Homo sapiens: one gene and its partners. The protein of the gene in region 1 interacts with the protein of each later gene in a biochemical or structural test. Each region holds a gene or a part of one and is shown in the gene's direction. Other genes may lie near its edges. The genes, in order: MAPT, MARK1, HDAC6 and GSK3A.

Region 1 (8,481 bases):
GGGCTGCTCCCGGAAGTGCCTGCAGAGTCAGGGCTCCCCAGCCTCATCTAGTGAGGCAGTGGAAGGGCCTGTGGGGATTTGGAGAGCTGGCCTGGGTCTCTGAAGTGATAGTGACAGCTGCTTGTCAATCACGGTGCACATTTAGTGCTGGGGGCAGGGGGCAGGGAATACCAGCCTCATGCATGCATGCATTCATTTGTTCCTTCCTTCATTCATTCATTCAGTACACATGGGTACAACATCCCTGCCCTGGAGTTGCCCAGAGTCTAGGGAGGGGAAAGATCTATTACCCTGGGCCTCGGCCAGCTGGGGAGTGCTGCTGGTGGAGAGGGGCCGTGTGCAGCGAGGGAAGGAGGAGTCGTCAATACCCCCACCCCAGCTTTGCTTTCTTGTCATCAGCCCCAGGGCCCCAGCCTGTGTCCCTCCTCTCCCATTGCTACTTCATCTCCTGGGTCCTCCTTACCAAGCCTGACCACACAGAGGGCCTTGGCCGCTTCCATGGGGAATTGGAAAGCAATAAGATAGCATCCCCTAGAAGCCCAGTGAAGTCTGGGACAGGACCCTTCTCTGAGCTCTGACTTGCTCTTGGAAACACTTCGAGGCTTAGCCTCCCCACTTTGTTTCCCGAGAGTGTGACCTGTTCCCCTCCAAACACCCCCTTCTCCTCCAGGGCCATGCCCACCCGTCAAAATCCCCCACGGGCAGGACGAACTGTGGGTGTCAGTCACCATCTATCCTGCATCCTGGTTCCAGGGCCCCCCCCAGCCCCGCCTCCATAGGGACAGGCGTGCAGACACCCGTCCCTGGCTGCTTCCTCTTGTGGAATGGGTTCAAAAGTAAGCAGTGTTGTTTACACTGACAAACTGAAAAAAAAAGAAAAAGAGATAACATTGGAGGCTTGGCACAGTGGCTCATGCCTGTAATCCCAGCACTTTGGGAGGCTAAGGTGGGAGGATGTCCCCAGCCCAAGAGTTCTAGACCAGCCTGGGCAACATAGCAAGACCCCATCTCAAAAAAAAAATTTAATTGGCCAGGCAGAGGTGGGAGGATCACTTGAACCCAAAGGGTGGAGGCTGCAGTGAGCCGTGATGGCACCACTGCACTCCAGCCAGGGCAACAGAGGGAGACCCTGTCTCTAAAACAAACAAACAAACAAACAAACAAAAGAGTTAACATTGGCCAGATTAGGATTCACCAGATAGTGTTAATATTAGTTTGATTTGAGACTTTAATCAGAAAGCACATGTGTGGTGGGGGTGGGTGTAACCTAAGTCAGGTAGAATCTTTCCAACTTGGGGGGGGCACACTCCTGATTGTAGCCATATGAGTCTGTCAGTGTGGTGGAAGAGGCCATGGGTTAATGGGCAGGTAAAAAAGCACCTTGCCTGGAATTGAGTAGAAAGTAAGGCCCTTCAGACCCCGTGACACACTTGGGGACATTTTCTTGAGTAACATCCTAAGATTCATGTACCTTGATGATCTCCATCAACTTACTCATGTGAAGCACCTTTAAACCAGTCGTCTCCAAATTCAGGGGCACAGTAACATCCAACAGGCTGGAGAAAGAACGTACTAGAACTTCCATTCCTTTTTCATGTCCTCTTCTAAAAGCTTTGTCAGGGCCAGGCGCGGTGGCTCACGCCTGTAATCCCAGCACTTTGGGAGGCCGAGACGGGTGGATCACGAGGTCAGGAGATCGAGACCATCCTGGCTAACACAGTGAAACCCCATCTCTACTAAAAATACAAAAAAACGAGCCGGGCGTGGTGGTGGGCGCCTGTAGTCCCAGCTACTCGGGAGGCTGAGGCAGGAGAATGGCGTGAACCCAGGAGGCAGAGCTTGCAGTGAGCCGAGATTGCACCACTGCAGTCCAGCCTGGGCGACAGAGCGAGACTCCGTCTCAAAAAAGAAAAAGAAAAAGAAAAAGAACTGTGATTGGGGAGGACGGTCACTTTCCTGTTCTTACTGATCAGAAGGGATATTAAGGGTACCTGATTCAAACAGCCTGGAGATCACTGCTTTCAACCATTACCTGCCTTATTTATTTTTAGTTACTGTCCTTTTTTCAGTTTGTTTCCCTCCTCCATGTGCTGACTTTTATTTTGATTTTATTTATGTTTATGTTTAAGACATCCACACGTTCCTCTGCTAAAACCTTGAAAAATAGGCCTTGCCTTAGCCCCAAACACCCCACTCCTGGTAGCTCAGACCCTCTGATCCAACCCTCCAGCCCTGCTGTGTGCCCAGAGCCACCTTCCTCTCCTAAATACGTCTCTTCTGTCACTTCCCGAACTGGCAGTTCTGGAGCAAAGGAGATGAAACTCAAGGTAAGGAAACCACCTTTGAAAAGAACCAGGCTGCTCTGCTGTGGTTTGCAAATGTGGGGTTTGTTTATTTGTTTTTTAGCCTCAAAGACCTTTCTTCAAATGAGTTCTGGCATAGAAGCACCGTGTAAAATAGTTAGAATTCTGGGCAAAGGGGAAAAGAGAGCTGGGGGCCATCCCTCTCAGCACCCCACAGGCTCTCATAGCAGCAGCTCCTAAGACACCTGGTGGGACCTTGGTTTCGAAATCGCTACTCTAAGGCTGGGCACGGTGGCTCACACCTGTAATCCCAGCTCTTTAGGAGGCCGAGGAGGGTGGATCACCTGAGATCAGGAGTTCGAGACCAGCCTGGCTAACATGGCAAAACCCTGTCTCTACTAAAAATACAAAAATTAGCCGGGCGTGGTGGTATGCGTGGTGGTAATCGCAGCTACTCGGGAGGCTGAGGCACAAGGATTGCTTGAACCCCAGAGGCAGAGGTTGTAGTTAGCTCCAGCTTGGGCGACAGAGCAAGACCCTGTCGCAAAAATTGTTTAAAAAACAAACCCAAAATTGCTACTCTCATTGGGTTCCTTTGCCCATTCCTGATTTTGGCAAGAGAAATGCTTCCAGATTGCCCTGATCTGGGTAGGACAGCATCACGCCATAGCAACACTGCCCCGTGAGCTCACTGCCCCCTCAACTAGCTTGTGGTCCTTGGTTAATGTCAGTTTCTTTTTTGAGTTTGTGTTATGTCTAAGGGTCATCTGCTGGGTAACGGAACCCAGGGACTGCCCTAGTCCCTAGACTGTGCCATGCCCGACTCTGCCAGCTTTGTCAGTGATGCTGGTGCTCGCCTCCTCGGGTGCTCGCCTGGTCTGAGCACACCCAAGGAGTTCTTGAGGCCTTAGGGTTGTTTGCGAGAGAATGAAAGAACACGACCTAGCTCTCTTTAGCATCCTTGGTCAGGTTCAACACTGCCCCCAGGGGCCTCTGGTGGAGCCAACCACCATCAGCCAAATAAATCCATAATTAGAGTCAGAAAATGGATGTCTGCATATGTGTAGTGCACTAATGTCCTGCCGATGATTGACATGGAGTGGAGAGTGACCTGATCATTGCTGTGAGCTCTGCTGGCCTTGGCACAACTCATGCTGATAACTAATGCACACAGTTCCTCTGGGAGGAAATGTCCTCAGGGAACTTGGAGTTTGGGTGGGGATGTGGGTTTGTGTGCCCAGCAAGCCCTTGTGGTTGTAGCAGACACTAGTGGCATCTAGGAGGCAAAGGGTCACCCCAGTCTTAGCCACGTTTTGAGTCAAGGTGGCGGAGTGGGGCTGGTGTTGACTCTTGGTGGCAGTAACTTTTCCCAATGGTGAAAAACCCCTCTATCATGTTTCATTTACAGGGGGCTGATGGTAAAACGAAGATCGCCACACCGCGGGGAGCAGCCCCTCCAGGCCAGAAGGGCCAGGCCAACGCCACCAGGATTCCAGCAAAAACCCCGCCCGCTCCAAAGACACCACCCAGCTCTGGTAAGAAGAACGTTCTCTTGAATCTTAGAGGAAGCTGAAGCTCTCAGAGGTACAGCCTTCATTTTAGGAGGCCTTAGGCCACTGAGAATGAATAACCCCTGGCAGCTGGTCAGCAGCTTGCAGTTTACTAAGCACTGGAGTCTTCATTGCCTTCTCAGTCCTTTTGATTTCTGAGGCAAATGTTGAATCCCTACCTTTTTTTTTTTTTTTCTTTTGAGACAGAGTTTCGCTTTTGTTATCCAGGCCGGAGTGCAGTGGTGTGATCTCAGCTCACTGCATCCTCCACCTCCCAGGTTCAAGCGATTCTCCTACCTCAGCCTCCCTAGTAGCTGGGATTACAGGCACCTGCCACTATGCCCGGCTAATTTTTTGTATTTTTAGTAGAGACAGGGTTTCACCATGTTGGCCAGGCTGGTCTCGAACGCCTGACCTCAGGTGATCCACCTGCCTCGGCCTCCCAAAGTGCTGGGATTACAGGCATGAGCCACCACTCCCAGCCTGAATCCTCACTTTTTATCAATGAAGAAATTGAGGCTGATTCTGCAGCATGATAAAAAAAAATACAGAAAAAGGAAAAAAAAGAAAGAAATCGAGCCTCTGAGAGTTTGCTTGACTGAGTCTAACCAGCTCATTTTAAACCCGAGGAAAATGCAGTCACATGACTACTAAGTGGCAGCTCTCGGAGCCTCTCTGGCCCCAAGTCCAGGGTTCCATAGAGGCAGCCCCAGCATGGCATGTTTTCAGTCCCCAAATGAGACTCTGGAGACAAATGTCTCTGGAGACAGAGCAGCAGCCTGGATAAGTCACAATGGGTGACGTCACTCAGGGCTCAACCCCTGGGCAGCTTAACTTGCTAGGGACGTTAGGAGTCTGCTGCAAAACCTGAGGGTCTTAGCTGAGCAGTCACAGGCTGGGCCCGTTGCCCTGGGCTCCTGTGAGTAAAACCCAGTCAATTTTGAGTACCCAGTAAGGCATCCATTGAGTTATTTTGCAGCCAGGAGTGCTATTAAGAACAGTCGCGGCTGGGCGTGGTGGCTCATGCCTGTAATCCCAGCACTTTGGGAGGCCAAGGTGGGCGGATCACCTGAGGTCAGGAGTTCGAGACCAGCTTGGCCAACATGGCAAAACCCCGTCTCTAATAAAAATACAAAATAATTAGCTGGGCGTGGTGGCGGGCGCCTGTAATCCCAGCTTCTCAGGAGGGTGAGGAAGGAGAATCACTTGAACCCAGGAGGCAGAGGTTGCAGTGAGCTGAGATCGCACCATTGCACTCCAGCCTGGATGACAAAAGTGAGATTCCTTCTCAAAAAAAAAAAAAAAAAAACAGTCGTCCTCTTTGGGGATTAGGGACAGCCTGCCTGCCTGCCCGAGCACTTCTCTCTTCCATTGCCCCAGTGAAGTATTCCAGGCCCCTGGGTTTAGACTCTGCACCATGTAGGGGTGTCTGACCTGCACTTGCTCCTTGGTGGCACGGGCAGCCTATGGCACTTGCTGCGGGCTGTGACCAAAGCCTGGCCTGGATCTTGGATCTTGGTGACTCTGCTTCTCCCTGGCCTGAGGGAGCTGCCCAGAGCCTGCCCACCACCTGCTGCGTGTCTTTGCGGTGGCATTTCTCGCACACATGCCGTGCAGTGGCACCCCCAAGGATGGCCATTCACTAAGGCCCATTGTTTTTGTCTTTTCGCTTCGTGTTTTCTGGCCTGGTGTTTTTCTCATATACATGTGATCCAGGGATAATTCCCAGAATTTTGACAGGATTTTAAGTAGCGTTTGGATCCTGCTGTTTTTTTTTCACTTAACATCGGGCCAGTTGACTCACACTCTGTTTTTTGTTGTTGTTTTTTTGAGACGGAGTCTCACTGTGTCACCCAGGCTGAAGTGCAGTGGCACAATCTTGGCATACTGCAACCTCTGCTTCCCAAATTCAAGCAGTTTTCCTGCCTCAGCCTCCTGAGTAGCTGGGACTACAGGCACAGGCCACCACGCCCTGCTAATTTTTGTATTTTTAGTAAAGACAGGGTTTCACCATTTTGGCCAGCCTAGTCTCGAACTCCTGACCTCAAGTGATCCGCCCACCTCGGCCTCCCAAAGTGCTGGGATTACAGGGGACTCACACTTTGTAACAACCTGAAACAACGTGATGCATTTCCCTTTGGGTCTTACCTGCTCTTCGGTGGCTGCCTGCAGGTGGAGAGACCCTCCCCCTTGGGCCCCTCGACCTTGTTTCAGAATGGGGCCCCTGCTGGGCCAGCTGTGGGTGCCTGCCACGTGAAGGACTCATTAAGGCCCTGTTTAAGCCTGATGATAATAAGGCTTTCGTGGATTTTTCTCTTTAAGCGACTAAGCAAGTCCAGAGAAGACCACCCCCTGCAGGGCCCAGATCTGAGAGAGGTACTCGGGAGCCTACTTCGCTGGGAGCAGCCTCCCTTTGCGTGTGTGGCCATTCACTGGCTTGTGTTTCTAGAGCCGGGAGGACCCTTTTCTGCAATGCAGGGTTCACACAGGGTTCGCAGCCTGAAGATGGAGCAGTCCGAATTCTCTTCCCTGTGCAGTTTGCGCAGCTGTGTTTGTCTGATGGGCTTTCTAATCCTGTGTGCTCTCCTTGACTTCAGGGACAATGGCATTACAGGCATGAGCCACCATGCCTGGCTGTCTCCCTATGTTTCAGATGAAGACATAGGCTTAAGGAGGTCAGGTGACTTGCCCACGACCACTCTGTAAATAAGAGGCATGAAAAGTATTTGGAGCCACCACCACCAAGCCCACTGGTCACCCTGGGTCTCTGAAGTCAGGGAGGCAGGAGGATGGGAGGTCTGAGGAGGCAGAGAGGCTGAGCCTGGAGGCCCTGGAGGCCGAGGCCCCATCTGTTGTTTCCTTATGTGGAAAATAAGAGGCTTCGTTTGTCCTATTGCCACAGAGCGTACTACTTCAGGAACATCCAAGACATGGAAATCCGCAGGGCACGGTGGCTCACGTCTATAATCCCGGCACTTTGGGAGGTTGAGGTGGGAGAATCGCTTGAGGCCAGAAGTTCAAGACCAGCCTGAGCAACATAGTCAGACCCCGTCTCTATAAAAAACATTATTTTTAAAAAAGACATGGAAGTCAAATTCTAAAAACTGGTGCTGGCTGGGTGCGGTGGCTCATGCCTATAATCCCAGCACTTTGGGAGGCCGAGGCGGGTGGATCACCTGAGGTCAGGAGTTCAAGACCAGCCTGGCCAACATGGTAAAACCTCTACTAAAGAAATCTTTACTGAAAATACAAAAATCCAGTCTCTACTAAAATAAGTCTCTACTAAAAATACAAAAATTAGCCAGGCGTGGTGCTGCACACCTGTAATATCAGCTACTCGGGAGGCTGAGGCAGGAGACTCGCTTGATCCCATGCAGCGGAGGTTGCAGTGAGCCGAGATCACGCCATTGCACTCCAGCCTGGGCATCAGAATAAGACTCCGTCTCAAAAAAAAAACCACAAAAAAACAAAACAACAACAAAAGAAAACTAGTGCTTATTCGTCACTGGCCAAGCTGCCCATTGGCTACATGGGTGCTTCAAAGAGCTGCCCTTCTCCAGGTCTGGCCAGCAGGTATGTGTTACAGCAAATGCCTGGGGCAGCGGCAGGGGCATTGCTGCGGGAAGCTTCTGGACTTGCAGGAAAGCTAAGTTCTCAGACTGCAGGGGAGCTAAGCACACCTCGGCACAGGGTGAGGCCTGCGGTTCTCAGACTTCAGTCTTTGTGGAGCTTGAGAAAAATGAGGCTTTGCAGGTCCCACCCCTAGAGATTCTGCTCTATCCACTCTTGAAGGGGATCGAGAAATTTGCATTTTGCAACTCCCACTTTCCTCCTTGAAAGCTCCGGAGATTCTGACGCAGGGTTCCGTGGGCCACACTTTGGAAAATACAGACCCATGAGATAGAATACCAGACTGTTGAAGTGTAACGGGGGCCTGGGAAGTGCAGTAACAGAAGCAAGTTTGAGGGTAAAGGACACCCAGAGGAGGGAGGGACAGCATCTGCATGGAGAGGAGAAGAGACCCCCCAGCAGCTTCCAGGGTGTTGGAAGGGTGCGCTAGTAACTGCTATGCATGGCAGGTGGGGAACTGTACGTCAGGGCACAGCAGCATGAAGCGGTATGGCTCGTGTGGACAGCTAGGGACAGGCAGGCGTGGAGCAGGCATCCTGTTCTGAAGGCCAAATCCCACAGAGGAGCCAGGGTGCTGGCAGGAGCCCTGAACTAGCCGAACAGCTGAACAGCTGAACATTCACCCTGTGGGGAAAGGGTCAGAAGCGTCCAGGCTTGAGGGCACAGCTGGGTCTCGTCACTGCATCACCCTTATTTAGGATAAAGGCCCTGAAGAATTGTATTAGAGGTTGGCAAAGCATATCTACCACCTCCTGGAGCCACGCTGGCCGCAGGGATTATAATTATTTCCATTTTCAAATTAAGGCCTCTGAGCTCAGAGAGGGGAAGTTACTTGTCTGAGGCCACACAGCTTGTTGGAGCCCATCTCTTGACCCAAAGACTGTGGAGCCGAGTTGGCCACCTCTCTGGGAGCGGGTATTGGATGGTGGTTGATGGTTTTCCATTGCTTTCCTGGGAAAGGGGTGTCTCTGTCCCTAAGCAAAAAGGCAGGGAGGAAG
Region 2 (8,481 bases), on another chromosome or scaffold:
TTTTTTCCTTCTTCAAAGTGAATTCAAGCAAGTATCTATTAAGTTTGTAGCCCTCATGATTCAACAATGTTTAGGTTGCTTATATATTTTAAATGCTGGGTTAGTCAAAAGTAGCAAAAATTTTTGTTCTGTTGGGTAAGGATTAAACAGAAGAGTATTATATCCACATTGAAAATCATTTCTGTATATTTTATTACTGGTGAGTAGTCAAGGATTTGGCAGGCACAACAGTGGGTTACAGGTCAAAGGTTGTGTGCATGGTAAGGAGAATTACCTGCCTATCCCTTTTTGCTTATTTTCTCTCTTCTCTCCAAGGCTCCTCAGACTTGGCCTGCCTTCTAGCTCAAACCTGAGACTCGAGGAAATATCTTCAGGGTGGCACTGCACACACCACTGTTGGTGGCCTCAGCTGGACATGCCTTTGATCCTGGGGCATTTAGTCTGCTTAATATTCCTGGTGGTTGAGAGAGTTTCCCAAGCAGGTGAAGAAAGGCAGCCCACTGGCTTCTGAGTGGGCATGCCATCTTCACTGCCCGAGGCTCCTGTTGGTGATGATACTTAGTGTGGAGTTGGCTTGCACTCCTTGTTACTTAGAGCTGCTCACACCCCTGCTCCTGCCCTTTCTCTACCACCAGCTCACAAAGGAGGGAGTGAATAGAAACCCAGCTCTCCTATTGCTTCCAAACTGCTGGCTGCTATTATAGGAGGATAAGCTAAAACTGTAATGAGTTCATTTTTGATGCTTTGTCTTTTACTTCTGAAATCTAAATTAGAGAGAGGCAGGGGATAATCTTGTTAATATAAGATTCTGATCAATTAAAATTCTGTGGATTTTTCTCAAAGTCAGCTTAAATACATTTCTTTGGCTTTCCACAAATATATTTATAATTTTTTAATTGCCTTTTTTTTATTCTTGAAGAACAATGTGTATTCTGGAGGTAGCATGGCAAGAAGGAATACATATGTCTGTGAAAGGACCACAGATCGATACGTAGCATTGCAGAATGGAAAAGACAGCAGGTAAATGCCACAGTGCCAAGTAGTAATACCTTTGCTGTTGTTCTGTGTTAGTGCCCTTGCTGAAATGCCTGCAGCCGAATGGGTCAGGAGAAAAGCAGTTATTACATGAAATAGTAAGATTGCAACCAACCGTTCTTAGTAAGACATCTTTCCTGTACCAGGATAGAAGGATGGGAAAACATTTAGAGAAAACAAGAAACAAATCTCTTTACCTGCCAATTTCTGAGTAAAATCTGATAGTAAATATTTTTCTATAACAAAGCAGATCATACCATCCTAATTTCATCTTCATAATTTGAATCTTATTCTCTTATGCACCTGCTGCCTCCTTCCCTTTCACTTCCCATCAAGTCATTGCTGTATCTCAATAAAGGCTTTATTTTTCTCCCTCTGAAAAAAATGTGACCATCTTATTTCTCATCATTCAGAACCACATAATTTTTAAAGTGTTTTATTTCAAATAATAATAAATCATATTATTTTTATTACTTAAAAGATGTGTCTTCTTTCTATCATGAGTCACAAGGACTACTCATCAATATAGTACAAAGACATGGAGCCTATTCTAATGAAATTATTTTCTTAGTACCACCTTCAGTCATTTCAGTAGTGTGTACAACCCATTCTCACATTTGTTTCTTCTCACTTAATAAGAATGTAAAGTAAGTGCTATTGTAAGGCATACAAAGAAAAATGTATCTTCTTTGGACATAAGATAATTGGAAATTGATTTCAGACTTATGATTTTTCCTATACTAAATTTTAATCTGCAGCTCCTTTAATCTGCAACAGTTAACCTATTGACTCATAATATGATCTAAAAGTGTTTTGATGAATCTAGAGATAATATTTTTGGTATAATTATCAATTCTGATTGTATGAATAATGGACAATGAACTACAGCAACATATCACACCAAACTGTGACTTTGGGGAAGTAAAAAATGACTCCAGTCATAATAATTTTATCTGAAACTATCGTATATCCACAAAAATAATTTTGTACTTTCTCACATTTACATACATAGTGTGTGTGAGATTTTTTTCATAGATGATAGTGATAAATTCACCCTGTATACTTTTCATAAGAATATTAATTGTTTTGTTAGTCATTAATAATGCCACTAATGTTAGTTTCTTTCAAATGTTTCAGTCATGAAAGGTGTTAGTCAGTTTAGATTTTTTAAAATATAGTTCTTAAATTTTAGTAAACCACAAATTTTCCTCTTTTTTTCCATGGTCTTCTCAACTGCTTTATGGTGAAAGCCTTACGGAGATGTCTGTGAGTAGCATATCTTCTGCAGGCTCTTCTGTGGCCTCTGCTGTCCCCTCAGCACGACCCCGCCACCAGAAGTCCATGTCCACTTCTGGTCATCCTATTAAAGTCACACTGCCAACCATTAAAGACGGCTCTGAAGCTTACCGGCCTGGGTAATGTGTTGGTTACATCTCATTTTGTTCATTAAGAGTTTCTAAAAATATAGCACCATGTGAAAATACATGATAGTCACCATCACATTAAGACCTTTCTAATAAGATTCAGTGTTTGTTATGGAGGAAAAATTGAATTGTAACATAAACTTTCTATGTACTTTGGCTGTTATTGGAAATGTTGCATATAACTTAAATCATTTTCTAGAGGAATTTTTTTAAGGATTTGATTTTACATCCGTCTATAAAGTTAAAAATTGCTGTTTAATTTGTCATTTAGGTAAATTGATTTTTTTATTATTTAAACCATACGAACAAACACTAGACTGTGAGTTGAGACCCGCAGATAATGATCAGGCTCAATTCCTTGTTCTTAATAAAACCAGGCTTCAGTTTTCCTGTCAATGAAACTGATGAACTCAAAGAGCCTGTTCAGATATAAAATTGTATAATTGTTTTTCTAGTATTTTTCTATTTTAAGATTTCCCAAATTCAGTACATCTGAACATTTTAACCCTCTGTTAGATTTGTTAGGCATATTGGTGGTGCCATGTGGTATTGTAGCATCACTGAGGCCTAAATTAGAAATAGGAAATTATTTTATTCAAAGCCTTTTTAATAAACAATAAAATTTGTGTTCAACATTGCTAAGTGGTTTCAGGAGAATATTAAAAAAATATTTGCAGTACTCCTGGTTTGGCATTCCTGATACTGAAAAGTATTTATCTTTGTGTCCCTGTTTCAGTCATTTCTTGATTTTTAGTGACCAAACAAAAGGTACCTAATTTCAAACTGAAATTTTACTCCAAACCCATGTCTCACATCTCTAATGTGAACAAATAAAGTAGGGCCAAAAGAAGTAGCCATAGCTATTTGTTTCAAGTTTTTAGCTTGAGTGAAAGGTTTTCTTGTCATTATTCTGAATGATATATCTTAATTTGTCCCAGCAGTACAACCCAGAGAGTGCCTGCTGCTTCCCCATCTGCTCACAGTATTAGTACTGCGACTCCAGACCGGACCCGTTTTCCCCGAGGGAGCTCAAGCCGAAGCACTTTCCATGGTGAACAGCTCCGGGAGCGACGCAGCGTTGCTTATAATGGGCCACCTGCTTCACCATCCCATGAAACGGGTGCATTTGCACATGCCAGAAGGGGAACGTCAACTGGTATAATAAGCAAAATCACATCCAAATTTGTTCGCAGGTCAGTACCAATGTACTGTCGTGTTTTGATTCCTCTAGAAATTATAAAGGAAACTAGACTTTTTAAAAAAATCTTTATAATAATTTTCTAAAATGGTTTCATAACATTTCATTAGAGCTGCTCTTTTACAGAGTTGGAAGAAAAAAATCTAGGAAGACATAAAGTATTTTTCCTTAAGAGAGAGAAAGGAAAAAATGGACAAAATGAGATTTTAAAAATCTGTAAAATAAAATGGAAAGAACAAAGACTTAACTTCAAAAATGTGTGTTTTAACAAAAGATTATTTTATATTTAAAAGCCTTGATTGAGGAAAAGAAATGAGTTTACATGTTTCCTTCAAATTTATCTTGACAATACTTTTAAATTGCTTACTAATAATATATAATTTACATTTTTTTCTTCTTGCATAAAAAGCCTACACACCAGAGTCACAGATCACTTATGCAATTTTACATCATAAAACCTTATCATCAAAACATAGTAAACACAAAATGAATACATGTATAGTAAAGGTCTAATCTACTTAAACAATACAATTATACTTTCTAAAAAGTAAGCATACTTACTATGCTTACTATGCATACGTGTACAGTGCACATTGATGATACAAGTTGCTACTACAATGCAGGCTGATGTGGATTTCATCTATTCCTGGTCCCACTAAATGCCTACTTAAGCCCTGCGACAGACAAAGCACTGTGTTAGGTGCAGAACAGAATCTAAAGATAGGTAAGATGGCATCTGTGCCCTCCAGATTCTTATAGTCTTGTAAGAAGCAGACAAACAACTAGCCATGATATAAAGCAGAACATGTGCTAAAAAGTGTGGGCAACATGCTGGATTCCAGAGGAAGACACAATTGTTTCTATCTAGGGAGACAGTGAAGGCACCCTATCATATAATCATTTCAGCTGAGCCTTCAATGATGGGTAAGAAATAATTATACTTGCTTTAAGAAATACTAATTAAATACTTAGTTTCCAATGTTATTAGTGTTTCTAGGATTTCAAAGAGTGGATGTGGAAAAGAGAAGAAGCAGCTTCAGTCTTACTTGCCTTGTCATGGAGCTATTTATAGGCTTGGTTCATACATCAGTTTGCCCAGTATCACATAGCTGAATTAAAAACTTTAAAGCCTCAAATGTAACATAAATTTCTAACCATATCAGTCAGTGACTTTGTACCATTGGGGCAATTACTATGCAGCATGAAACTTGCTAGAGAAAGAACTAAAAGTTCACCAACAGAGTCAGCATGGAAGTTAGATCATAGTGTTAGCCGGCCATCTGCAGGGTACTAGTCAGATTATCAGTAGTTTCTGCTTTTGGAATTTGTCTATTTAAGGCCATTTCAAAAAGCCAGTACTTTCTCATGGTTAAGCCAGAATTAATTTTAAAGTGAAGAAAAATAGGTTTATAGTTTAGTGCTTGATTACTAATTGTGCATTAAGCATTGTGCAAAATATTTCTCTTAACTGCAACAAAAATTTAGACTCTAGGGGAAACAGAGTACTTTGGAAAGGAAGTCGTGAGATAGAATGCCAAAGCAAGAAAGTGCCTTAGAGCTGGTCTGTTGGGAGGTTCTGATAAAGATTGCCATATAGTCTTTGAACACATATGTGGAGACCTACTACACGCAAGGCCCTTTTGTAGGAGCTATTGCTACGGCAGTGAGTGAGACTGATGGGTCTCCTGCCTTCCTGTGAGCAACTTACTATCTTGAAACATTCCACACATTTAAAGCGTTTCCCTTGCTTGGCTCTGGTTTTCTCCTACCTCACAGACTAGCTATCACTTCTCAGGCTCCTTTGCTGGCTTTTTTCAGATTCCCTTGCCTTTCCCCCAACCTCTAAATATTAGAATGCCCCAGAGCTCAGTCTTTGGACACATTTTTTTCTCTGGTTTTCCTTACACTCTTGGTGATCTCAGTCAGGCTCATGACATTAGATTCCGTCCTGTATGAACAACTCCTAACTGTATCTCTAGCGCACATCTTTCTGCTGAACTGCAGACTCATATCCAACTGCTGCTCAGCCTCTCCACTTAGATACGTTATAGACTCTGAAACAGAACATGTTCAAAAGTAAACTCTCGTTCCTCTTCCCAAACCTGTCCCTCCCTCATTCTTCACCGTGTTAGAAATTGGCAGCCTTGTCCTTACAGTTGCTCAGACCATAAGCCTTGGAGTTATCCTTGACACTTCTTTTCCTCATACCACCTCAGATCCATTGGCAATTTGTGTTGGCTTTACCTTCACAGCATTTCCAGGATTTAACTGCTTGTATCACTCCCGCCACTGCCTTCATACTCTGAACCACTATTCATCTTTCACTTCCTCATAGGTCTCCTAGTTTCTGTCCTTGTCCTCCTCTTCTGTTTCAGCAGTGTCATGTCAAGTCTGATCATGTCACTCTTAAATTTAAAGCCCCTGATTAGCTTTCACCTTGCTCAGAATACAATTCTGTGCCCTCACTGTGGCCTGTGGGGCCTTGTGTAACCTGGCCATCCATTTCTGCTCTGACCTCTTCTCCCACTCTTCCCCTTGCTGCTTCCACACCAGCCACACAGGGACCAGACTGTCCTCAAGTACATTAAGCACTGCTTTGGCATTGTGTACCTGCTATTCCTTCTGCCTGGAATTCTCTGCCCTGAATACCTGCATGGCTCACTTCTACACCAAACCTTATGATTTTCTAACCATAGCTCATTCTTATATAGGGAACAACCCAGTTTGTTCAGTTGAGTATATATTGCTATCTGTAGGTAATTGTTTTTTAAGTGTTAAGTGTTGGAGAGCATGCTGTGCTGCATATGCTGTTAGAGCCAGCTGCACCTTCTGTAGCTCCATCTGCCTCCTACCATGGCTACTTAAAGCAGACTTCCTGGGCTCTTTGAAACAATTGCCAAGTAGCAGAAATTTTTCCAATGTTCCTACTGGCATCCAGGTAGGCAGGAACAGGGTATGGGTCAATTGCTATTTCAGTCAATTACAGCAGAGGAGATAGGGTCTAAGGGACATTTCACTCCTAATGTTTTAAGTTTGGCAGCTGTGGTATAGGTGTTTGCTAATAGTGAATAATAAAGCATAATATAAATAGGACAGAAAAGTCCAGTGAGATTTTTGTCCCTTCCTAAAGGAATTTTGTCTTAGCAGTGGGAGTCAACAGCATTACTGTCTTGCTTGCCAAGTTGGTATACTGCCCATCTGTGTATATCAGTTCATCTACATGTAACTGAAAATGTACATTTCACTTTCAGCCTGCTCAAAAATGTTTTATTTATTTCAATGTGCTATAATAAAAATGGATTTGTATAGATGGCATTGAATTTTTATTATACTTCCCAATGAAAATGCCAGTTATTAAAAATAGAAATTTAAGAAATTACATTTGAATGTGAGAATACATTTTAGTATTCTTTTAAATTCAGATAGAAAAATTTTTTTTTTCATAATATGTTTGTTAAGAAAGGCATGTATTAGTTAAAGACCCTGAGAGGCATAAGGCGTTCATATTCTTAAGAACAATTTAAAATTTTAGGGCTTGGTATGTGGGTGTGTTTTATGAATTTGGGGGATGGGAGAGTACCACTGATTTTATTCTTATTGCATTCGTTTTACATAAATAATAGAAATGTTTCTGGAATGGCTAAAACATTAAGACAGTATTAACTTAAGGATTCAAGTTGGTGATTTTTCCCACTATTTAATAGTATTTTACCCTTTATCACAAGATATTTAATTACCTTTAAAAATAACAAAGCATTAAAATTTTGGTAGACTTCAAAAATATTAATTACATGCAACACAGAACAATTAGTAGTGTTTTCCTGGTTTTATTTCGCAGGTGGATATCCAGGTAAGGTCAGTGTTTTTATTTAAGATTGAATCCGTGTTTTTAGACTTGCCTACATGGATAGGCTGTTAATTTGCTGTGATATTTTATCATGTGCATGAATTGTTAGCATAACTTCTAAAAGAAATTGCTTATTTGGAAATTGGTGTTTATTTGCTAACTACAAGGTTAATGTATATATTTTCTAAATTGAGCGACTACTAGAATTATACATAATTACAAATTTGAAGTTGAATCTTGCTATTGATAATTATTAAATAGTTTTAACTTTAGATTAAACTAAACCAAAAGATAAATTATGACTTCAAATGAATCATGGCTGGGAATTGGAAGATTATGAAAAAAAAATTTCAAACTTTCACCTCATATTGCCTCTTGACAAAAATGAGTAGACGCTCAATAAATGATAAATTACATGCGGTTATGGTGAAAAATATGAGAAATAGTCTCAGACTGACTAGTAATAGAAAACTGTCATGGTAGAAGTTTGCTCAACAAGCTAATTTTAAAATAATTTTAGATATAGGTTTTCTTGATATATTTTTTACTTTTATCATTAAATCTCAACCTTCACTTTGTTTTGAGGGATCCAAGTGAAGGCGAAGCCAGTGGCAGAACCGACACCTCAAGGTGAGGAGCCACTATTAATACTTCGCTGCTAGGTCCCTGTGTATGAAAACGTACTTTTGAAATACTTACAGCACTTAATGATCATGAATAGATCTAATAACTAGATAGCATGCGTATTTTAGATTTTTATATTGGGGTGGGTTTTCATAATGTTACCTAGCATTCAAGTCAGTCAACTTTAAGTTTGTTTTCCAAACATGCATTTGAATTGTGTACTTGGTATAGAAATAGGCTTTCTGTTCTATAAAGTATGTCAAGCTAAAGAATTAATAGATTAAATGTACTGATATTTTTCTCACTAAAGTAATGTAACTAAAATTAGTCTGAGTCAAATAGCACAAATAACA
Region 3 (9,465 bases), on another chromosome or scaffold:
CCGCTCTTTATGGCTTCTTCCCTAGAGCCCCGGATATGGGGGTTGCAGGGACCCACAGGTCCTGACCATATTATAGGTAAGCAGCTGTCCTCCACAGAACACCAGCCCATCAGCTAGCGGGCATTCCAGCTCCACTAAGTAGCCTGCTGCAGAATCACAGGAGTCTATTATGCTCACTGTGGGCATTGTCCACAACAGCCCTGATCCCATAAAAGACACGTGTCTGGCCTCCCCTCAGAAGCCCAGCCCTCACACCCTGCAGGAGGCCCCATCCTCTAAAAACCCCCTTCAGAACCTGTGCTGGACACATGTCTGGCCCCACCTTGTTCAGGAGCCCCGGGCCTCACCCCCATAAGTATAGCTCCCCCAGCCTGGTACAGAAGACTAGCTCTGAAGCTCTAGGGGAGCCCTTCATCTAATTATCGACAGGAAACCCATCCTGATCCTGTACAGGAATGCCAGCGCTTACCCTGAATAGGAGGAACCTCTGCCTAACCCCAGCTAGGGACATCTGGACTAAGCTGTAAGGAAGCCCCTGCACACCCTGGACAGGAACCCTTGTCCTGACCATCCACACAAGCCTCAGTCTCCCTATACGAATCCTGTCTTGACCTCAGACAGGAACACCTTTGTACTCACACTGCTGCAGTCCTGTCCTCCAGGTAGCATTTTAAAAACACCTCACTCACAATAATCTGAGTAGTAAACCATGGACCCAGCTCTGTCTTTACAGAAATCCCTGTCCTCAACCTCTTCAAGGACCCTGACTGTGTGTGGAACCTCTTGCCTTCATTGTTGACAATGATCCCTGATGTTGCCCTGCACAACAATCCATGACCTCACACCCTATCCCATAGAGTCCACAGGAACCCATGATCCAACTCTCAACATGAACCTCAGTCTTTAACTTGTATAGAAAACCACTTCCTGACCTTATGGCAGGAATGCCTGTCTTGACCATTTACTTTAAGCCCTGACCTCAGCCTATACAGGCACCTATGGCCTCACCTGATACAGGACCCCCCCTTCTCACTATATAGGTCGCATTTATTGATGCTGCACGAGGCTCCTGGGCCTTACCTTGTATTAGCTCCACTACCCTGACCCTCTACAGCAGGGGTTCCCAACCCCCAGGACACGGACTGGTACTGGTCCATGGCCTATTAGGAATTGGTCCACACAGCAGGAGGTGGGCAGCAGGCAAGCAAGCATTACCACCTAAGCTCCGCCTCCTGTCAGATCAGCAGTGGCATTAGATTCTCATAGGAGCACGAACCTTATTGTGAACTGTGCATGCAAGGAATCTAGGTTGCGTGCTCCTTATGAGAATCTAACTACTGCCTGATGAGCTGAGGTGGAACAGTTTCATCCCCAAACCATCCCCCACCATCCGTGGAAAGACTGTCTTCCACGAAACCGGTCCCTGGTGCCAAAAAGGTTGGGGACCGCTGCTCTACAGGAAGCCTGACCCTAAAACTGTTCCAGGACTTCTGACTGGTCTCTGCAGAAAGCCTTTGTCCTGAACCTCAACAGAAATCCTTTACTTTTACAGTAATTTATTTACAGGAATCTCTGTAATTTACAGGAATCTCTGATCTTTATAGGAACTCCTAGCTTTACTCTCTGGAAATACACTGCTTACCCTGAACAGGAAGCTTAATGTGATTCTCTATAACAGCCTTTTCCCTGGCCTTGTCCCAGAAGCCCCACCTGCACCCTGTACAGGAACCACTGCCCTGACCCAACAAAGAAACACCGACCTGAATCTCTGAAGGGGCAGTGTCCTAACTACACAGAGGATCTTTGTCCTGAACCCGCACAGGAACCTCTATTACCCCCAGCAGGAACCTGTGCCCTGAGCTAGCACAGAAAATCCTGCCCTTACACTCAACAGGAACCTTTGATTTGCCTCTTTAGAGTAATCCAAAGAATGAACCAGTATAAAAAACCTCTACACTGTACAAGAACCTCTGTTCTGTACTTGTTAAACAACCCATAATCAGAATCACCATGAATACCTGCCTGGAGACTGTACAGGAACCCCTGACCTAACCCCCAATGGAATCACCTGATCTGTCTGTCTCTAGTAACACAGCTCTGATCCTGGACAGAAATACCTGGCCTGAGTACGCTGTGATCCTCTGGCCTGGCCGTCTACAGAAAACCACTCTCCTGGCCTCAAAAGGAACACCTAACCTTAATCTGTATGGGAAAAAATGCCTTCACAGTTTTCCCTCTCACTTTACAATGTCTCCAACCTTTGTATTTCCCTGCAAACCTGCCTTACCAGGTAACAGAATCATTCTCCTGACCCCAGACAGGAAACACTAACCTGACCCAGAGATGCTCCTACCCCTACACAGTAAGAGTCCCTGTCTCAATGCTTTAAAGAGAAATTTCTATAGCAGTGCTGTCCAATAGAAATATGTGAGTCACACGGGTAATTTTATATTTTCAATGTAGCCACATTAAAAAGAGAAAAAAAAGATAAAATTATTTTCAATAACATCAATATACTTAACTTTACCCAATATATTCAAATATTATTTTAACATGTAATCAATATAAAAATTACTGAGCTATTTTAAACTTTTTATACTGAGTTTTGTGATCTGGTGTACATTTCACATTTATAGCACATCATCTCAAGTTAGACTGGCCACATTTCAAGAGCAGTAGCCACACGTGGCTGGTAGCTACCATATAGGACAGCATAGGTCTGTGGAGTCTACGGAACCCTATAGCAGACACTGCTATAAGCTCATTGAGACCTGTTCCTGTTCTTCCTGAGCTCACTCTACCTATTCCAGCCTCCTCTGCAGATAGATGTGGGCACATGACAGAGTTCTGACCAATGGAGTATGGGCAAAAGTGACATATACCAGTTCCAGGCCTGACCCATAAAAATCTCTCATGCAATCCTCCATTTCCTCTCTTTCCCTGTCTACCAACTGAAAACCAACTAACTCCAAGGACCTAGAGGAGGACAGAGTCACAAAATAGAGTTTGCCTGGGTCCATGAATGAACAGTAGTAAATATTCAGATTGGCTTTTGAATGAGCAAGAAATAAACATTTATTCGTTAAGCCCCTGAAATTCTGGGTTACAGCAGCTAGGATAATTTAGCCTAATTAATAATAATCTCTCCCCCTCTCTCTCTCTCCTTTTTTTTTTTTTTTTTTTTTTTTGAGATGGAGTCGCCCAGGCTGGAGTGCAGTGGTGCAATCTTGGTTCACTGCAACCTCCGCCTCCCAGATTCTCCTGCCTCAGCCTCCTGAGTAGCTGGGATTACAGGTGTATTAGCCCGGCTAATTTTTGTAGTTTTGGTAAAGATGGGATTTCACCATGTTGGCCAAGCTGGTCTCAAATTCCTGACCTCAAATTATCTGCCCACCTAGGCCTCCCAAAGTGCTGAGATTACAGGCGTGAGCCACCACGCCTGGCCAGTAATTTTTTTTTTTTTTTTTTGAGACAGGATCTCACTCTATTACCCAGGATGGAGTACAGTGGCACAATCTCGGCTCACTGCAACCTCTGCCTCCCCTCCCAGGCTCAAGCGATCCTCACACCTCAGCCTCCCGAGTAGCTGGGACTACAGATGCACACCACCACACCCAGCTAATTTTTGTGTTTTTTATTGAGATGGGGTTTTGTAATGTTGCCCAGCTGGTCTCAAACTCCTGAGCTCAAGCAATCTGCCCTCCTCTGCCTCCCAAAGTGCTGGGATTACAAGTGTGAGCCATTCTGCCTGGCCAATAATAATCTCTTGACCGAAATCTAGACACCTGATCTCACTGTCTATATGAACACAAGCTCTGAACCTATACAGAAACACCTGTGACCCAGTACTGGCCCACCTGATCTCTTTGTAGGAAGCTGTCATAACATAGGTCTAAGAAGCCCCATCCTGGCCACGAATGGTGGCTCACACCTGTAATCCCAGCACTTTGGGAAGCTGAAGCAGGCAGATTGCTTGAGTCCAGGAGTTTGAGACCAGCTTGGGCAACATGGCGAGACCCCATCTCTATAAAGAAAAAAAAATTAGGCAGGCATGGTGGCATGCACTTGTAGTCCCAGCTACTTGGGAGGCTGAGGTAGGAAGACAGCTTGAGCCCAAGAGGTTGAAGCAGCAGTGAGCCGTGTTCACACCACTGCACTCCAGCCTAGGCAACAGAGTGAGACCCTGTCCCCTGTATCAAAAAACAAAAACAAAAAAACAAAAAAACAAAACCTTAATCCTTAACTTGCACAGGAACAGGAACCCATAGTCTGGAGCTCTCTAGAAACCCCTGCTTGATTCAGTAAAGGTACAATATAGAAACCATAGGAATCCCTGTCCTCATTCTGTCCAGGAACATTTGGAATGACCCACCAGAGGTACACTAGAAGTGACCTGACCCTGCCCATGAATCCCTGTCCTCACACACCTCACACAAAAGGAATACCTCTCCTTAGGAAAAAAGGCCCCTACCCTCAATCCTGCAAAAGAATACCAGCCAGATAGAGACCAAGGCCTGACACTACAGCACAGATCGGCAAACTATGGCATTCAAGCCAAAGCCAGACTGTGGGCTGTTTTACATTTTTAAAGGGTTGTTTTTTAAAAAGAGAAAAAAAGAAAAATGCCACTGAGACCGTATGTGGCCTGCAAAGCCTAAGATGTTTACTCTCTGTCCCTTTATAAAGTTTGCTGACCCCTGCTCTTCAGAAACCTCTCTTCTGATCCAACAGAAAAATGGGCCTTGACCCTTTGCAAGACTCCCTACTCTATCAGGCTGCAGGTATCAGAACTCTAGAATTTTTTTGTAGTGTGTTATCATTGTATGTGTTTTCTTTGGTGAGTGTAGGGGTTTAAAGGTCTTAGGTCTGCAACTCTTTTGCGCTGAGACAAAAGATAGGTTCACGTAGGAGGGGTGAGAGGGAAGAGGCGGCAGGACATCTTCAAGAGGATCAGAGGGCAAAGCTACTGGGCGGTGAGACCGTCAATCTGTCAGTCTGATGCAGAACCCCCGGACTGCTTATCTCTCCGGTCCCAGCTTATAGCCCGGTAGGAAATGGTGGAGAATGAGACAGGGAGATTAGGAGGACAAACCGGCCTCCTGCAGAGCTGACATTTAGACATGGAGTGGGAGTTGCGGGGGAGAGGGGGTGCCTAGGGACAGCTCCCCAGACGCACACACACTTTCTATTACTGCTTGGGAGCAGTGGTTACCCGTTGGAGGGGGCAGATAGGGAGAGCTGCTGCCCATGAGAACTCCCATCCTCAAGGCCATTCTGGCCCTGGGCACTATTATTATCACAACTTTCCAGATGAGGAAACGGAGCACAGAACTGTTCAGCAACTTGCCCAAAGTCACATGGTTAAGTCCCGTAACCTCAGTTTCCTTATCTGCAAAGCAGCCTTAATAATGGGAACTACCTCATAGAATTGTGGTTTACAACGATGCCTGTCACATAATACTTGCTATCATTACCATTCCCTGCCCCCACTAAGACTCCTTCCACTCAGAATATTGCGGCAGAATATTAATAGCTAATATTCGGCCAGTGTTTCCTGTGTACCACCATAGTGAATATTAACTCGGAAAATCCTCACATTTAGCATCGTCACCACGCCTATTTTGGCCGCCACCACCAACGTCCAGTGGCAACCTCGCTCTCGGCCCAGCCACAACCAGCCCGCCCGCGCTACGTCATCACGGCGCGTCGCGCGGGAAGTCGCGGGGAAAAGGTAAGATGCCCCTTCCTAATTCCCTCGCTTCCTTGCTTGCTCTCCAGACACCGCCGACCCGAAGGGCTCCTAAGTGACTGGACAGGGACGGAGGGGCGGCGGCTATGGCATCCGGGACGACAGCGACGATAGCCGAGGCAAGAAAAAGCTTGCACCGCAGCCCTGTCGGGAACCGCCGGCGCCTGCCTTTTACGTAGGCGCAGCACAGCTGGCGTAGCACGCCGACGCACCGCCCCGTCGCCTGTGAGCTCGCGGTGTGGCTCAGCCCAGCTGGCGTAGCACGCCGACGCACCGCCCCGCCGCTTGTGAGCTCGCGAGAGGTGTGGCTCGCGCGAGGGGCGCGGCCTTGAGGCACGGTCCCCTCTGGAGGCGGGATCTGGGCGGGCAGTCGAGAGACGAGGCCCAATGGAAAAGAAAAGCCTGAGCGCTCGCGTCCCCACAGGTCGCCAGAAACTTGGTGGAGCGAGCCAAGGGCGGAGTTTGAGAAAGGGGCTGCGTCCAATGAGTGGAGCGGTGAGTACAGCGCGTCGACGGCGGAGGCGGGAAGGGGGCGGAGGCCGACCGAAGGCGGCTAGGGACTGGCTGAAGAGGGTTAGCGAAACGTTAGCGGTCGGGTCTGGGCAGGGGGTGGAGCTGGTTGAAGGAACGGGGCAGTCCCCTGAGGAGCGGGGCTGGTTGAAACGCTAGGGGCGGGATCTGGCGGAGTGGAAGGTACCGGTCCGGCCCGATAAGGGGTGGAGTTAAGTGAATCGTTAAGGGTGGAGTCGAAACCGGGGTCGGGGCCGGGGCCGGCTGAGTGAAAGGGTGGGTGATTATCCCGGGAGATAGGCCGAAAGGGCAGGTTCGTGAAGGAATGGGGTCTGGGCTGGGCTTAGAGGGTCTGGGAATGGGGCTTAGGAGAGTAGAAGGGGCGGTGATTGGTTGGAAAGGGCAGGCCCTAAGACGGACTGTGTGAGCCCGGGGGCTCATTGCTCCGTGAAAGGGCAAGACCAGGGAAAGAGAATCGTGTAAAAGGGGTGGAGTCTAGCGGGCCGGGCGGGGCCGGGTAGAATGGCCACCTGAGTGGAGGGAGAAGGCCTGAGAGAGGCGGAGTTTGGAAGGCTGTGGAGAATCAGATCGCGTAAGGAATGGAATCTAATAGAGGGGGCGGAGCCTGGAAAAGGGCAGAGAGGTGGGGTCCTCAGGGCACACTAGCCCCCTCACATACCCACGCTCCTCCCCCCACCCCCAGAACCGCGGCAGGGGCCAAGCCTCCTCAACTATGACCTCAACCGGCCAGGATTCCACCACAACCAGGCAGCGAAGAAGTAGGCAGAACCCCCAGTCGCCCCCTCAGGACTCCAGTGTCACTTCGGTGAGGCCCTAGACCCGCCCTGATGAGGGGGAGAGGGAGCAAGTTGGTCATGCCCTGGACTCTGACCCTTCTCTCTGATTCACAGAAGCGAAATATTAAAAAGGGAGCCGTTCCCCGCTCTATCCCCAATCTAGCGGAGGTAAAGAAGAAAGGCAAAATGAAGAAGCTCGGCCAAGCAATGGAAGAAGACCTAATCGTGGGACTGCAAGGGATGGTGAGCAGGGCCTGGCTGCAGTTTAGCCTCGTATGACAATCAAAACCCAAAGGTTCCCCACCCTGGACAGTTCCCTCTGACTCAGGGCCTAAAATGGATCTGTGTCTCCTTTTTTTTTTCCTCTGCAGGATCTGAACCTTGAGGCTGAAGCACTGGCTGGCACTGGCTTGGTGTTGGATGAGCAGTTAAATGAATTCCATTGCCTCTGGGATGACAGGTGAGGCTGGGTCCTCCAGGCTGTCTCCAAACCACAAAAATACACACACTTAGAGCCCATTAGCAAGAATAAATCTTTTCTTACCCCAGCCTGGATACTGGAAGCAGATGATTTGGGGAGGTAGGGCTCACACTTGAAAGGGTTCTTTTATGTAGCTAACAAACATTTATTGAGTGCCTATTGTGTGCCAAGAGTTGGTGATACAAATGTACCAAACAACAGACAGGGGTCCTTCTCTAGGAGCGGATTGATGAGTAGGAGGGCAGATCATTAAACAGCCAACAGCAGTATGAGGTGTTTAATGAAGACAGACTTAAGACCAGGGGATTCAAGGGTGTATAATAGAGGATCCTAAACTAGTATCCGGGCTTCCCAGAAGCCTTTATAGAGGAAGAGACGTTTGTACTGAAACAGAAGGATGAAACCTCCCGTTTGCTTTACTTTTCAAAAAGAATCAGCAAATCCTTTTGGCTATATGTTCAAAATATATTCACCATCTGACCTCTCCTCACCACCTCCACTGCCACCATCATCATCACTCACCTAGACTTGCAGAGGCCTCCTCCCTGGTCCCCTACTTCCAACCTCACCTCTATTATCTGTTCATGCAGCAACCTAAAAAAATATGTATGAGTTGATGTCTTTGTTAAAATACTTTAAGGAGGCCAGGCATGGTGGCTCACGCCTATAATCCCAGCACTTTGGGGGGGCCAAGGCAGGTGGATCACTTGAGGTCAGGAGTTCGAGACCGGTCTGACCAACGCGATGAAACACTGTCTCTACTAAAAATACAAAAATTAGTTGGGCGTGGTGGCACACACCTGTAATCCTAGCTACTTGGGAGGCTGAGGCAGGAGAATCGCTTGATCTGGGAGGCGGAGGTTGCAGTGAGCCGAGATTGTGCCATTGCACCCCAGCCTGGGCAACAAGAGCAAAACTCTGTCTCAAAAAGTAAAAATAAAAAAAAAAAAAGTACTTTAAGGGCAAACTGTTGCCCTCAAGGTAAAGTCCAAATTTTTCATCCTGGCCTCAAAGGTTCCACATGATCTGGCTCCACATCACTTTGTGACCTCATCAGCCAATCCTTCTCGCCCACACTACTCCCCTTGTTCTTCCAACATGCCAGGCACCCTCTTGCCTCTGGTCTGTACCCTGACCAACCCCTTTCCCAGAGATTCTTTTCGGTCTTCTACTCTTCCAGCTGCCTTTCACATCCCAATGAGACTTTCTCAGAGAAGGTTTTGCCTGGCCAAACCCTACCCCAATACCTGATCTTATTTTCCTAGCCCATGACATTGTTTGCTAATTATCATACTTGTGTGTTTACCAATTAATATCTATATCCCTTATCCCAACCTAAGACTAACTTACTATGGGAAAAAGACTTCTTTTATGGAATACCTATTTACCATCTATTGAGGAGCTAGGGATACAGCAGTAAACAAAACAAACAAAAGCCTGTGTCTTCAGGGTAAAGGGGGAAGACAGACAATAAATAAACAAAAAGTAAATGATGCACTGTGGTAGAAAGAGCAGTGTTATGAAGAAGCAGTAAAGGGAGGATAGTAGGAGAAAGTACAGTGGAGGAGACTTCAATTTTAAATAGGCTGGTCAGGGAAGGCCTCACTATTTGAGCAGGGATCTGAAGAGGTGAAGGAGTAAGTCATGGAGACAGTTGGAGGAAGAGTATTCTAGGCGGGGGTGGGGGGGCCAGCTAGAGTAAAGTTCTAGGGCTGGCTGAAGAGTATTTGGTTCAACTGAGAACCAGGGAAGAGACCAGTGTAGGTGAAGCGAAGCAAAGGAAAGAGGGAGGGGTAGGAGATGGGGTCAGAGAGGTGATGGAGGACAGATTGTTTAGGGCCTTCTGGGCATGGGTAATACTTTGGCTTTTACTCAGAATGGGATGGGAGCCTCGAAGGGACATGAACTGATTAGGGTTTTAACCAGTG
Region 4 (4,394 bases), on another chromosome or scaffold:
GCTCATTGGGGTCCTTAGCAGAGAGAGGAACTGAGGGCTGGAAACACACCTAGACTAGAGAGTACAGCAAAGGCAGGGTCAAGGTCGGGCCCATGTTTCTAAGCTGCATGTGACCTTGGGCCAGGTGCTTTGTCTTTGAGAAAACGGGGCTCCTGACACTCTTAGGATGGCCATGAGGAATAAAAGCATTGGGAGGTTGGTGGCCCTACTCGCCTAGCCCTGACGCTCCCTCCATTTCCCCTCAGATGTTTGGTCAGCTGGCTGTGTACTGGCAGAGCTCCTCTTGGGCCAGCCCATCTTCCCTGGGGACAGTGGGGTGGACCAGCTGGTGGAGATCATCAAGGTGAGGGGCGGGGCTGGGCTGGGCAGGGGGTGGGGCTGAGGGATGGGGCCCTTGTCTCAGACCCCTCCCTCTCTTTACAGGTGCTGGGAACACCAACCCGGGAACAAATCCGAGAGATGAACCCCAACTACACGGAGTTCAAGTTCCCTCAGATTAAAGCTCACCCCTGGACAAAGGTGGGGCAGGGCTAGGGGCTCAGGGCAGTATGGCTGAGAGCTGGTCCCCCTTGGAGGTCAACTGTTCTGTGGACCTAGCCTCAGAATCACGGCTTGGGAGGATTTGAAGAGTTATCCAGGGATCAATAACATCCATCCGCTTTCAAAGTTTATGGCATTTTAAAAGTTGAGAACCCACAAGTAAATTCAAGATTCCAATTTTTATGGAGGGTCAGCAGGGCTCATATAGTCCCAGACCTGGGCTGCCTGCTTACCCGATACAAACTGACCTCTCCTTAGTGGTTGGGCCTTAGTTTCTTCATTTGGAAGGTGGGGGTGTGGGAAGCAACCAGTCATAACTTGCCGCAGGCACTGTGGCAGTGAGATAACAGGAGTATGCCAGTGTCCAGGGCATCTCACCCTCATGAGCCCTGCACCCATCCCTCAGGTGTTCAAATCTCGAACGCCGCCAGAGGCCATCGCGCTCTGCTCTAGCCTGCTGGAGTACACCCCATCCTCAAGGCTCTCCCCACTAGAGGCCTGTGCGCACAGCTTCTTTGATGAACTGCGATGTCTGGGAACCCAGCTGCCTAACAACCGCCCACTTCCCCCTCTCTTCAACTTCAGTGCTGGTGGTGAGGGCATAGCCTGGGATCTGGGGAGTGGGGCGGGGTAGGGGGGCAGCCAAAGATTGTGAGGAGCTTGGTGTTGAAGCAGGAGTGGGGAGCTAAGGGCAGGGTACAAGGCAGGCCTGGGGCTCAGGAAAGATGACTCCCAGATTCAGGGGGAATCGAACCTGCTTCAGTTGTGCTTTACTGTGATCTGCCTTGTGCTAAGCTTTTTCTGGTTTTTCATTGAGAGAGGTCTGTGGCTGAAGGTGTCCACAAACAACTGGCCTTCCCAATAGCTGGGTTCCCATTTGGTGCCCATCATAACCCTGCTGTAGTCTACCCTGACTAGCATGTCAATTCCTGTTTCTAGAACTCTCCATCCAACCGTCTCTCAACGCCATTCTCATCCCTCCTCACTTGAGGTCCCCAGCGGGCACTACCACCCTCACCCCGTCCTCACAAGGTAAGTGGGGACCATCTGCTGGGGGTTAAAGTATCTCTCAGCCTGGAGAGGGTGGGGCTGTTCGCTCAGTGACTGGGTTTCCTGAATGTATTTTTAAATCATCGACATTTTGATGGCATAGGAAACACATCTTACAACATGTGAATGACCACCTTTAGAGGGTATTCTTGCGTACAAATGTTTAAATGTGTTTAATGCCAATGGGAAAGCCAGAGAAATAACGTCTGGCCTGAACACAAACAAAAAGTTGAATTCGTTGCCCAAGTTTGTTTTTTTTTTTTTTGTGCAATAGAGTTTCACTCGCCACCCAGGCTGCAGTGCAGTGGCTCGATCTCGGCTCACTGCAATCTCCGCCTCCTGGGCTCAGGCAATTCTCCTGCCTCAGCCTCCGAGTAGCTGGGATTACAGACACACACCACTACGCCTGGCTAATTTTTGTATTTTTACTAGAGATGAGGTTTCACCATGTTGGCCAGACTGGTCTTGAACTTCAGGTGATTTTCCCGCTTGGCCTCCTAAAGTGTTGGGATTACAGGCGTGAACCGCTGTGCCTGGCCATGGTGTCCACGTTTAAAAATGGGGCTATTTTATGTAAAAATTCAGATTTCCTGTTTCTCTTGGGGAAGAAAATCAGATTGGGCAGCAATGGGCCCGCCCATCCTACTGACAGTAGACAGTGGGCGCCCTTTATATTTTTTAGACGGAGTCTTTTTCTGTCACCCAGGCTGGAGTGCAGTGGCACAATCCCGGCTCACTCCAACTTCTGCCTCCTGGGTTCAAGTGATTCTCCTGCCTCAGCCTCCTAAGTACCTGGGATTACACGCTCATACCACCATGCCTGGCTTATTTTTGTATTTTGAGTAGACATGGAGTTTCACCATGTTGGCCAGGCTGGTCTCGAACTGCTGACCTTGTGATCTGCCCACCTCAGCCTCCCAAAGTGCTGGGATTACAGGCGTGAGCCACTGTGCCCAGCCCAGCCACCGCCTTATATGGAGCCTGGCACTCTGGTGTGTCACTCAGTTACTATCGTGGCCCTTTAGCACTTGAGTTTGCAACCCTTCACCTAAAGTAACAGCTTGTAACTTTTAATGTAGCATCTATGACAAGAGAATTCCTACTTTTGGGTTGGGCGAAGGGGTGTCTGAAAGGCAAAGGCTAACTCTGCTCCTTCCCTGCCTCCCTCCAGCTTTAACTGAGACTCCGACCAGCTCAGACTGGCAGTCGACCGATGCCACACCTACCCTCACTAACTCCTCCTGAGGGCCCCACCAAGCACCCTTCCACTTCCATCTGGGAGCCCCAAGAGGGGCTGGGAAGGGGGGCCATAGCCCATCAAGCTCCTGCCCTGGCTGGGCCCCTAGACTAGAGGGCAGAGGTAAATGAGTCCCTGTCCCCACCTCCAGTCCCTCCCTCACCAGCCTCACCCCTGTGGTGGGCTTTTTAAGAGGATTTTAACTGGTTGTGGGGAGGGAAGAGAAGGACAGGGTGTTGGGGGGATGAGGACCTCCTACCCCCTTGGCCCCCTCCCCTCCCCCAGACCTCCACCTCCTCCAGACCCCCTCCCCTCCTGTGTCCCTTGTAAATAGAACCAGCCCAGCCCGTCTCCTCTTCCCTTCCCTGGCCCCCGGGTGTAAATAGATTGTTATAATTTTTTTCTTAAAGAAAACGTCGATTCGCACCGTCCAACCTGGCCCCGCCCCTCCTACAGCTGTAACTCCCCTCCTGTCCTCTGCCCCCAAGGTCTACTCCCTCCTCACCCCACCCTGGAGGGCCAGGGGAGTGGAGAGAGCTCCTGATGTCTTAGTTTCCACAGTAAGGTTTGCCTGTGTACAGACCTCCGTTCAATAAATTATTGGCATGAAAACCTGCTTTCTGTCCGGCTGCCTGTTTCCGCTGAGGTGGTGGGGGCTTCCGGTGGGGGGACTGTTCTGGGACGGGAGTGAGCTGCATCTCAGGCAGAGGGCTGTCCGAAGGCCCTGGCTCAGGTGCCCAACCTTCTCACACCGTGGCTTTCTCTGCACGTGTGGTGATGAGCTCCATCTGGGTTATCTGCTGTAGAGGCCTAGGAGGAGCCTGCTCCATGACCCAGCATAAATCATCTGCTTCTGCTTAGGGAGGGAGGGATTAACCTCCCAGTAACTGGTGAGCCAACTGGGGATCAGAGAGGGGAAGGCCATGGAGCTTAAGTGACAGAAGAGTCAGGACTTGAACAATGGGCCGTCTGTCTTAGCCCAAGCTGCCTGCTGCTCTAGGGTCTGGGGGGACATGAGATGATGAGGAGTCACTCAGGCCAAAACTTAGCCTGCTTGTAGACTCTTTGTTGGGTGGCCATGGCTGGAGATGGAACCCTAGAAGATTCCAAGCCTTCATTTCCAAGTCTTAAACAGGACACCTACCTGGTCCACCTCTTAGGGATGTTGGGAAGTGACAACCCTGTGAAGGTGGGGACAGAGAACTTGACTTTTATCCTCACTTAAAACATGCTGGGGCCAGATAGTGGGGCATGGGCGGAAGGAAATGTTATCTCCTCCACATGGCACCGAGCAGTGAGTGTGGCCAGGACACCCCAGAGGTGGAAGGGGGCCTGGGGAGGAGCAATGGGTATGCCCCCTACTGGATTCCACCGGTGAACAAAAAGGGAGGAGTTTCAAATGTCCCAGATGGAGTGAAGGGACTGTTCCTGTGGGGTCTGGGCTCTCCAGTTTGCTCAACCCACTCCAGGGGCATCTTTACACTGCCTGGGATAGGACAGACCCTGCCCCTTCCTTGCTCAACACCACCCAGATTTCGCCTGGTTTGTAGTATCAATGAATGAACAT

Evidence for each region.
Region 2: of the proteins of MAPT (region 1) and MARK1, one has a biochemical effect on the other in vitro, tested with the Homo sapiens proteins (4 studies listed by BioGRID).
Region 3: the proteins of MAPT (region 1) and HDAC6 form a complex in vitro, tested with the Homo sapiens proteins (4 studies listed by BioGRID, with this or other methods).
Region 4: of the proteins of MAPT (region 1) and GSK3A, one has a biochemical effect on the other in vitro, tested with the Homo sapiens proteins (4 studies listed by BioGRID and IntAct).

What each region holds. Positions count from the first base shown.
Region 1 is NC_000017.11:45,987,749-45,996,229, forward strand, and holds part of MAPT (microtubule-associated protein tau), read left to right. Parts: intron 1-2,129; coding exon 2,130-2,327; intron 2,328-3,711; coding exon 3,712-3,838; intron 3,839-6,175; coding exon of another isoform or gene 6,176-6,229; intron 6,230-8,481. UniProt on the Homo sapiens protein: Promotes microtubule assembly and stability, and might be involved in the establishment and maintenance of neuronal polarity.
Region 2 is NC_000001.11:220,649,701-220,658,181, forward strand, and holds part of MARK1 (serine/threonine-protein kinase MARK1), read left to right. Parts: intron 1-919; coding exon 920-1,020; intron 1,021-2,285; coding exon 2,286-2,450; intron 2,451-3,397; coding exon of another isoform or gene 3,398-3,400; coding exon 3,401-3,652; intron 3,653-8,089; coding exon 8,090-8,134; intron 8,135-8,481. UniProt on the Homo sapiens protein: Serine/threonine-protein kinase. Involved in cell polarity and microtubule dynamics regulation. Phosphorylates DCX, MAP2 and MAP4. Phosphorylates the microtubule-associated protein MAPT/TAU.
Region 3 is NC_000023.11:48,795,701-48,805,165, forward strand, and holds the start of HDAC6 (protein deacetylase HDAC6), read left to right. Parts: upstream 1-6,366; 5' UTR 6,367-6,442; exon of another isoform or gene 6,443-6,851; intron 6,852-6,962; coding exon of another isoform or gene 6,963-6,992; coding exon 6,993-7,085; intron 7,086-7,170; coding exon 7,171-7,299; intron 7,300-7,427; coding exon 7,428-7,516; intron 7,517-9,465.
Region 4 is NC_000019.10:42,229,235-42,233,628, reverse strand, and holds the end of GSK3A (glycogen synthase kinase-3 alpha), read left to right. Parts: intron 1-245; coding exon 246-343; intron 344-423; coding exon 424-519; intron 520-946; coding exon 947-1,133; intron 1,134-1,479; coding exon 1,480-1,572; intron 1,573-2,761; coding exon 2,762-2,835; 3' UTR 2,836-3,439; downstream 3,440-4,394. UniProt on the Homo sapiens protein: Constitutively active protein kinase that acts as a negative regulator in the hormonal control of glucose homeostasis, Wnt signaling and regulation of transcription factors and microtubules, by phosphorylating and inactivating glycogen synthase (GYS1 or GYS2), CTNNB1/beta-catenin, APC and AXIN1.